Linked DNA regions of Homo sapiens: region 2 is linked to region 1. Evidence: fine-mapped expression QTL. Tissue or cell type: testis. Region 1 holds a variant in brackets; the other region holds the start of a gene. All regions are shown on one strand. Distances are from middle to middle.

What was found. PIP is the estimated chance that this variant, and not a neighbour inherited with it, causes the effect.
Region 2: CXCL13 starts here. The variant in region 1 is fine-mapped to the expression of CXCL13 in testis (GTEx, PIP above 0.99).

The regions. Positions count from the first base shown.
Region 1 is chr4:77,431,751-77,436,961 of GRCh38, forward strand. No RefSeq gene overlaps it. Among named protein-coding and RNA genes, the nearest start is that of CXCL13, 170 kb to the right of the region's middle. The variant C/A (reference allele first, on the strand shown) is at 2,261.
Region 2 is chr4:77,603,212-77,608,318 of GRCh38, forward strand. CXCL13 (C-X-C motif chemokine ligand 13) reads left to right here and starts at 2,609. Exons shown (of 4, transcript NM_001371558.1): 1 at 2,609-2,718; 2 at 4,492-4,624. The coding sequence starts at 2,655.

The DNA of each region.
Region 1 (5,211 bases):
CTACAGCCTATTTCTGGGACATCCTTAAAGAATGCTGATGAAGGAAAATCCTTTCTGCAGCCAGAACTTTGAACAGTAAACCTGATTGTTCATTTTGCCTGGAAGGGGAAAGGGCCTGAGGTAAGAATCTGTAATAGTTCCTAAGCTGTGGCCAATGTTTTGGCTGAATGGTCAGGGGTGTAGAAGGAATACAAGTGTAGAAGGAATAAAATTAGAAAACTGGATACAATAAGGTATCAGGGAGAGGTATGTGGACTGGCCTGAAAGGTGGAAATGGCCTTTTGAAAACTAAATTACGGCGTCAGCTATTGGCAATACCTTGCAGGGCTCAAGCTAAGGCTTCTAGGATTCTATGTAGTCTTTAAATCACTGTCCAATATAACTGTTTCTCCCATAACCAGGTTTCAAGGGTGTAAGAATTAAGGGGTGAAAATACAAATAACTTTACTATTATCCCCTAGTGATCTACTAAATTGTTTTATTCCCAAGGAGTTTGGAACTAAGACCCCTAGACAGCAGAGCCTAAGGGAGGAATGACTCTACCAGGAGACAAAATAATGACTCTGTTAAAGTTGAGATGGCCGGCTGCCTCATACCTCTGATTCAAAAGTAAAGGAGTTGCTGTACTGGTTAGGGCGATTGTTCCTGACAACCAAGGGGAAACTGGACTGCTACACAAGGAGGTAAGGTCTAATATGCCTGGAATACCCAAGATCCCTTAGGGTGTCTCTTGGCACCACCATGTCTTGTGATCAGTCAAGTGAATACCATACCCACTCCATTCAGAAGGGATTGCTAATGGTCCACACCTTTCAGGAATGAAAGGTTGGGTTACCCAATACGGCAAAGAACCACAGCCTGCTGAAGTACTTACTGGAGGTAAAGGAAATATGGAAGGGGGGGTTGGCAGAAGGTGGTTATAAATACTAGCTCTGACCATCTGACTAGTTGTAGAAACAAAGACACTGACAGTTACAAATATTTGTTAGGAATGTTTGCATATAGAGTAACTATTTGTGTCTCATCTTCTTACAGTCTAATATAAATGTTAATACTAGTTGACCTAGTATTTGTTATGGTAGTATTCAAGCTATCACATATTAAAGAAGAGTAAACTGTACCCAAGTAAACTTGCGCCCTCTTTTGGGGAAAGGGTTACTGTGTTTTCAGTTGTACACGGGACAGCTGTATTATATTAGGCAGAATTGACTATCTATTTGGAGATTAACTGTGTCTTAATGTGAGGCCTAAGGGTGCCAAGTTGATAAGGGTAGACTGTAATGATTTTTTGATATGCCTACGTTGCCAGACCACTGTCCCCAGTTCTAAAAACACTAATGTAGGTGTTGCTTTAGAAGTGTCATGTAGGTATGATTAAACTTCACAATTAGTTGACTTGAAGTGTAAGGGATATTCTCCCAGAAAAGTTTATGGGCCTAATCCAATCATTTGAAAGGACTGAACAGAGCTGAGGCTTCCCTAATGAAGACATTCTGCTGTGGTCAGAAGTTTCAGCAGCCCCTGAGTTCCTGCCTGTTCCTCCTGAAAGCCTTCCCTATCTGTGGATAATGGGCTTGCCTTGCCAACTTCCACAATTGCATAAAACAAGTCCTTGCAATGAATCTCAACATGTATTAATATGTATCTCCTGGTTCTGTTTCTCTGGTTAAACCTTGCATGATACACCCTCTTAATATCTGATACCACTTCTAAGGTTCAAGAATGCCAAGAGCAGCAGTTCCAGCCTTGCAGAGGAAAATGAAAGTGACTTCTGTAAGTCTGAGCCTTTAGTGTCAGCTGTCCCATAATTTATCCACCTTTGCCCTCTTCTGGTGATACAAGGAAATTCACAGTGATGTCGGCTAAAGAAACGCCCCTCATGATTCTCAGGCAATTCTGCTGAGGTCTCATGGAAAAATAGGCATTATGCCAAGGGTACAACCAGATAAATCATAGTTTTCTATTTTTCCATTATTTGGAGTTGACTTCCTAGCTGAAAATAACTTTAGAATGTGAACATTCATGGCAGCCATCAGAATGTTTGTTGCTTTTTAAAAGTTTAGAAATAGAAAAGCAGTTTTTTGGTAGAAAGTCTTACATATTCCTCTTGAGATTCAAAGTCCTTTTCTCACTACCCACCTCTCCATCCCACTTGCTTGTTAAAAGATTACTTAAAAATACTTTAAGTAGAAGAACAAGCTTTCACAAAAGTGCTGATAACTTATGTTTTTATGCAATTTCCTATCTATACTTGATGTAT[C/A]TTGGCAATTTATCAATAAAGATCCACTCATTCCTAATATGTGCACAGTATTCTATAGTATGAATGAACTGGAACTTAGTGTTTGCCTTACGGACAGACATTTAGGTTGTCCATCTCCTTGGCAATTAAAAATGATGCAGTGAAGAAACATAACATACCCTTGCTTCTCTGTGCTCCTATTTCTGTAGGGTAGATTCTTAGGCAAAACCCCTTTGATACTCATGCTGGGTAACACATCCAAGAACAGAGGTAACAAATCTAGCATAGGATTGTCCTTCCATATTGTTTGTTATTATCCCTATGTACCTTTCAATTCGTGCAGTCACTAAAGATGTGGCCATAGAAAATGCTACATGGATCTCCCTTCATAGAAAAACTTCTTATTCAGCTATTATGAGCGCAGATGGTGGAAAGCCTCCAGCTGTCCTTCCGGATCCACTTGGGCTTTCAAGCCAAGGTCATGGTCTTCGTGGGCAGCTTCCAGCCAACGACTGAGTCTGGTAGTTATAATTAGAGACTATTTCTGCCAAAATACATGACTCTGCTGATTTTTAACTGGTGGAGACTTTGTCAGATCGGCCTCAGAACTGAAGTCTCTATGCCTAGTCCTCCTCCCCACTTTAGATCTGCACAGCCACCTGAAGGCTTTCCTCACTATGATGGGTGGAATAATGCCCCCAAAATGTTCATTCCAATCCCATGAACTTGCGAGTATTCTATACATGGTAAAAGGAACTGTCATCTGTGATTAAGTTGAAGACTTTCAGATGAGATTATTCTGGATTATCTGGGTGGGTCTAATGGCATCACAGGGGTACTTGAAAAGGAGAGGAGATAGGATAATCAGTCAGAATGAGAGGAAGCAGAGGTTAGAATGATTCAAGGTCACAAACCAAGGGGTACAGGCAGCCCCTAGAAGCTGGAAAGTGAGTAGGTGGATTTTCCCCTAGAACTTTCAGGAGGAACGCAGGCTGCCGCCAAGACCTTGACTTTTTAAGCTCAGAGAAACCTGTTTATTTCGGACATCCAGAACCATAAGATGATAAACTAGTGTCTTAAGCCAGTAAGTGTGGTAACTTGCTATGGCAGCAAGAGGAAACTAATGCACTGGCTTGACCTTGTGTTCACCCTTCACTGTTCACAGGCAGTACCCCCAGGAAACCTCTCACTCCAAAACCTTTCTCCCAGCCTCTGCTTTTCAGAGAACCTGACAAATTGGAAAGGATTGAATGTTACCAACTTCTGACCAACACCTTGCTGCAGCAAAATTCATGAGAGCCTGCTGATCATTGTCATGACTCAAGTTTAAGAGCTGCATTAAAATGATGAAAGGAAAATCTTGGGAGAAGGATGTAGAACAATCACAAATGACAACCAGCTTCTCAGAAACATCTTGGTTCTCAGAATCAACTTATCTAGCGGCTTCTAAAGCAGGGAATTGAACCAGGATGACAGGATTCACTTGTCAGCAGCCTCTGTGGCTGGTGTTCAGAACCATGTGACCCCTCTATCATTGCTCACGATTGCAGTACCTTCATTTTGGGGTACTATTTCACTAAATTAGGAGGCACAGCTTGGGAATTCCATGTAACAGGAGACATAGATGACAAAACATTCTATAAAGAGGCCAAACATATGTATACTATGTACCATGTATATAAGCTCATTTACTCTTCACGAAAATCCAATGAAGTAGACGTCATCTCACCATATAGAAACAGGCTACCATCTCAATGCCATCACAGGTTGGAATAAACTGAGACTCAGATGGATGTCAAGTGCATGTAGGGGAGAGCAGTTAGTAGGATTAGCTCTACCTCTTACTGCTGCACTTGGTCCTGAGGCCATACATGGCTTTCTTCTTTCTCTACTGCCTACTCAGGATTATCCTCACCCTTGCCTTAGTACTTCTCCTGGGCTAGAGAGCTTGCCTGGTGTCCCAGACCTTTATCTATGGGAAGTCTGAGTCCTTGACTCCTAGGGAAGGCCATAGCCCATGTGGATATACATGAGCCTAGCCCTGGTCTGCAGAGGAGAGCCAACGCTGGCCCTGAAACAAGATCATATTGCAACAGATAGAACTTCTGAGTGGTACTGGTGCCCCATGCTCAGTGCATTCCTGCAGGCCTTGGTGACATAGGCCTTTACTGGGAAGTGCTAGCACTTACTAGGGAAGAGTAAGCCGCCTCTGTAAACTGAGGGTTCAGGGGGTCTGTAGAGCCAAGACTCTCAGGCATCCATCCAGATGTCCCCATCCCCCAGTTTTCCCCATCAAGGTCCTGACCTGAACATAACAGACACGAGCTGGCTGGGCACATTCATTTCCCACCGAAGCTCTGTTTTTCTCACTTCTTTGTTGAGCTGTGTTTACTCTTTTATTGTAGGAGATGAGGGCCTCTTGATAAGCTGCCAAAGAGGCCCTCTGGTTCTTACACTTAAGGATTTTTAATTTTTGCTTTACAAGTTTTTAGATTTATTTTTAATCGAAAATATGTTTATGGGTTGCAATGTGATGTTTTATACCTGTATACTTTGTACAATGGCTAAATCAATCTAAAATATCTATTATCTCTCTTTTTTGTGGTAAGGATATTTAAAATTAGCAATTTTGAAATATACAATATATTAACTATAGTTGCCATGCTATGCAATAGATCTCTTGAACTTACCCTTCCTGTCTAGCTGAAACTTCTTACCTTTGACTAGCATATATTTGGTAATCCCCACCTCAGCCCCTAGTAACCACTATTCTACTCTCTGCTTCTGAGTTCAACTCTTTAAGTTTCCACATATGAGATCACATGGTATTTATCTTTCTGTGTCTGGCTTATTTCACTTAGTGTTTTCCAGGTTCATCCACATTGTTGTATATAATACAATTTCCTTCTTTTTGTAAGGCTGAATAATATTGCATTGTGTATACTTACTACATTTTCTTTATTCATTCATTA
Region 2 (5,107 bases), 170 kb after region 1:
CTTCTATACTTGGGTCTCAAGATCATATCACAAAAGAGTGAAATGAATTAGACACTGTAAGAAATTGACCATTCAAAAACAGGAATGTTATTGCCTACCAACTCAATATAAGTGACTAGAATAATGTTATTCAGTCTAGGAATCTATTAATAGAAGAATAGTGCTAGGACAAAGGAGGTAATGGGCTTCCTCTAGCTTGTACTGGCAAAGCCATAATTGAGGTAATACAATGTTCAGATGTATGCATTTAAGTGTATGCGTGTCTGTGGCTGTGAGTCAGAGAGTGTGATGGAGAGGCAAAAGGGAAGGTAGTTATAATTTATGAGGAACAATGGAAAAGATCAACAGGTTTCAAAAAGGTAAACCAAGATGGTGAGAGAGTTTCAAACTGTTATCAATTCAAAGAAATAGGAGTATTTACTTTTGAAGTGGGTTTTGGAGTGGAAGTTAGTAAGATCTTTTATGGATGGATGGACAGATGGATGGATGGGGGTGGTGGATGGATTGAAGAGTTAAATCCCTAAACACCTCACTTTGAGAAATGTAGAAGCAATGGAGCAGTTTTTTCCCAAACAGATTAGATAGTCAGACAGACAGGCAGGCTATTTATTGAATACATTCTACATGCCAGTATTTGGCCGAACCCTCTACATATACCAGGTGCTTTCTTCTCCAAACAACCCTTTGGAATTCCTATTATCCTCATGTGGAAAGTGGTAAATATGAGGCATAGAGAAATTAAGTGACCTGTCCAAAGTCATTGCCAGGCTGAGCTCAGACTTTGTGCTGTTAACCTCTAGTTTATAACCCTGAGTGACACTCAAAGGTGGCCTACTCAACTCTCTCTTAAAGAAATAACTTGCTGGCCAGCGGCAAGGAGTGCAGTTAGCTGACAGCCTCTACTGATAACCTCCTCGGGCTCTGCTTCAGCTTTCAACCAGAGACCATGTTGTTTCTGAGGAGGCCCAGCTAAGGACCGAGCACGGTTGGGGTAGAAGAGTCTGAACATTTCTGCCCACCATGGGCCCCTCTAATAAACAGTCTTTCCTCTGGAGCTCCCCACTGAGCTGTTGTAGACTTCACCAGATCAGCATTGCAATCTGAGGCTCCCCCTGCCCAATTCAGCCTCCTTCCTCCTTCTGTCTATCGCAGGAGTTGTTCTGAATAACCTTCTTTTACTCCAATGTCCATCTCAGCATCTGCTTTGCAGAGGACACAACTGGCACACCCTGCCTTCATATATTTGGATTGCCATCATATAGAAGACTGTTTAGAATTGTTTTGTGTTGTGATAAGGGGTTGAATTAGGACAAAATTCAACCCCTTATCACAACACAAGCATAAACAAACTGCTAGGGAAGCAGCTTTCACATATACATAAGGAAGAACATCGTAACAACTAGAAGTGCCAAACAATAGAATAACCTGCCTCAAGATCAATGAGTGCCCTGTCACTGCGTTCAGGCTGACTGGAGAACTGCTTTTGTGTGAAGGTTGTGTGGCATTACCACTCCTCCACTTCTACCCCCATGAATACTGAGGCACCTGGGATGCTAAACATCCACAATGCTAATTGATTAGCAAAAACCAAATTGTTTAGGAAATCGCGCCAGGAAGCCCAAACCTCTGATTTCTTAGCAGATCAGTGGGTCTGGTTTGATACATCATCCTTGTCCACTTCCAGGGCAGTTTAGTGGTACTCTAGGCCAGACTAGCCAGTCTACATACTTTTTTTTTAATCAAAGAGCTTCTAGAAAATGGGATAAGCTGTGGGCTGATTGTCCCCATGGACTAGTTGGTGGGATCAAAACCTAACTTCACATATGTTTATGTCAGACTGTAATATGGGGTTCACCCTCTAATGCAGTTCTAATGACTCCCTCCCCTGCCACATGGTTCTCAAGCTCATGGACTTGCACACGACAGCCAGAGAGATTCTCTTCCTCAAGGCTGTTGTCTCCCTCCCTTCATGCAGACACAGGCACACAAAGCAGGGGACTCCTACTGCCCCCTTCTAAGAATTCCATGATGGTCAGATTATATAAGTAATCATATATTTCAGATAGCAAAATAAGAGATGGAAAAGACTGGTAGGAAAATCAATAGCATAATCAGCGTTAGGATCTGTATATAAAGAGACATTCATTTGCTGTGCAAATATTTACTGAGCACCTACCAAAGGCCGGAATCCCTTCCACATGCTAGGGACGTGATGCGCTCGACGGAGTCCCCAATGTCATGGAGTATATATCTAATGCCACTGAGAAACCTGGCTCACCCTGCACTGAGAGAAGCACTCAAAACCACCATCACCAATAGCGCTACTAAAGACAGTGCTTTGGAGCTTCCAAGCTGATAGATTATCCTTTCTCCCCACCCTCAGATTTCTCCAGTGTCTCTGGCACTTATAGTCCATGTTTGCAAGAAATATTTTATTATAGTGCTCTGAAACAAATTTATAAAGTTTGCAAGAGAAGTTTTAAAAAAGCAAGCTCAGCAATATTTGGGGGCTTTTAAAGCTGATGATGCAGCTGACCTACTGGAGACAAAGGCAGTGGGAGGGCCCTTACTGGTATAAATAAATAGGAGTCTCTGGTACTGCAAACCCACAGCCTGGACTCAGAGCTCAAGTCTGAACTCTACCTCCAGACAGAATGAAGTTCATCTCGACATCTCTGCTTCTCATGCTGCTGGTCAGCAGCCTCTCTCCAGTCCAAGGTGAGAAATTTCATTTACATTTCACTGTTTGTTGAACAGAAATAGTCTTTAACCACTTCAATTTTCTTTCGATTAAAAACCGCAGGGAAGTCTGACTAAAGGGGGAAAAAACTGCTCTGTTCCTTCTAGATTTCTCAAAGTAAGGTGTTTAGGAATTTAACTCTTCAAAACTGGAAGTATTTATATTGTTAAGATTTTTATTTATAGCAAAAAGAGATACCACAAGTCCAATATTCATGTGAATTATATATTCCCAGCCTTTTTCTGATTCAGCTCCTGCTATATATAATTCTTTACATGTAGCTCTTCTTTGTTCTGCCTCTCAATGTTACCCACTCTGACCAAACCCTATACAGGGTTTAAAGATTATTGAACTCTACTGGTCTCTTGCAGTGAACATGCTTCATGTAACTCCAAATGGTTAGATCTGACATCAAGTACACCACTGTCAGTACACCAGGGGTATTTACACACATTCTGCAAAGAAGCAGACTTCCATGTCTAAGTGGGGCAGCTATCTTTGTGTCAATAGATAAATATCCAGTTGAAGTAGTAAGTTTTTATGTGGCCGAAGAAATGGATATGTGCAGAAAGAAGCCTTCTGCTCAGATTTAGAAGGCCAAATTTTTGTTCTTAAAACACAGAGGAGCTTTGTCCCCCAGTTTTAATTTTGCTTCACATGTTATTTTCACTCTTCAAAACCCTAATTTCTTGCATTCTCCACGGGGCTTTCCCATGGCTCCCGGCAGAGGTAGCTCTTAGTACATCTTCTGTTCTCAGCATGCATGTTAGATTTTGAGCGTAATACAACCTTCTGTGGTATTTTAGTTTTTGTTTGCTTGTTTCCCCTACTAACTTGTACACACCTTGAGAGGTGAGCCTTTTTATTTATAAATGTATGTCAAGCACAGTAGTAGGCTGGATAGAAAAGATCTGATAAATGTCTTTGGCTTAGATTTCATTAGATCCCATTAAAATTCATGAGATGGATACTAATGGTACCCATCCAGTATTAATTGCTTTTGTTAAATAAAAAGACTTTTGAATTTTTATGATTGCCTTTTGTTCTGTAATGATTTGCAACCCAGACAGAGGACCAACATATCAAACAAAAACGTCTGTGACATTTTCTGAGAGGAAAGGGGAGGATGGCAGAGAGTCTGATAGAGAAAACTCTGTTCCAGCATGTTATTGCTCCCAGGACTCTTGAGCCAGGTCATGTCCTCGGTTTTTATGTGTTGGGAGTGAAGATAATCCACTGGTTTTATATTGCATTAATTATAACTGAGTTGTAAGTCCCTACAGAGGCTGTTCTCAAATTTTATTATGTGGACTATCACCTGAGTACAAATATAACACTATCACAAATTTCAAAATTGCTGTGTTTTTTTGAAAGCTAATTTTTGTTTTGTTTTCTTTTTGCTTTGTTTGTTTGCTTTCTGAGATGGGGTCTCCGTTTGTTGCCCAGGCTGGTCTCAAACTCCTGGGTTCAACCAATCCTCCCACCTTGGCCTTCCAAAGTGCTGGGATTACAGGTGTAAGCCACTGTGCCTGGCCTAAAAGCTAACTTTATTTTTAAAGTTTTGGTAGAAAACATTTGAAAATACTCAAGCCAAGACAAGCAGAAATATACAAACTAAAGACATATGGGTGGAAGCACTGACTTGAAACTTTTAAGTCTTCAAATGCACGTTATGAAAGATTAGTAATTAAATTCTAGTTATGAATTACATGCCAATGGATTAAAATAACTGATTCTGTGTTTACTTACAGGTGTTCTGGAGGTCTATTACACAAGCTTGAGGTGTAGATGTGTCCAAGAGAGCTCAGTCTTTATCCCTAGACGCTTCATTGATCGAATTCAAATCTTGCCCCGTGGGAATGGTTGTCCAAGAAAAGAAATCATGTAAGTTTCAAGAGAAAAATAAATAAGATTTCCTTCTCCCAATGAAATCAGATCAAATGTTACCATACAGTAGTCTTACTCAAGAATGTCGAAGAGATTTACTTGAGTGTTGCTAAAAATTCTCAAACTAATAATGAAAATTGTTAATAATTAAGAGCTTAGTTTGCAGCAGCCCTGAGCTAAGTGCTTTACATGCACATACTCATTTTCTTTATTCAACCACTTTATTAAGGTAAGTCTATTGTTCCTTACAGTCTGAGGCTTAGGAAGGTTAACTAACTGCCTGAGACACACCATCAGAAAGGATTAGAAAGTGCATTAGTGGCCAGGCGTGGTGGCTCACGCCTGTAATCCCAGCACTTTAGGAGGCCGAGGAGGGCGGATCACCTGAGGTCAGGAGTTCGAGACCAGCCTGACCAACATGGAGAAACCCCGTCTCTACTAAAAATACAAAATTAGCCGGGTGTGGTGGTTCATGCCTAT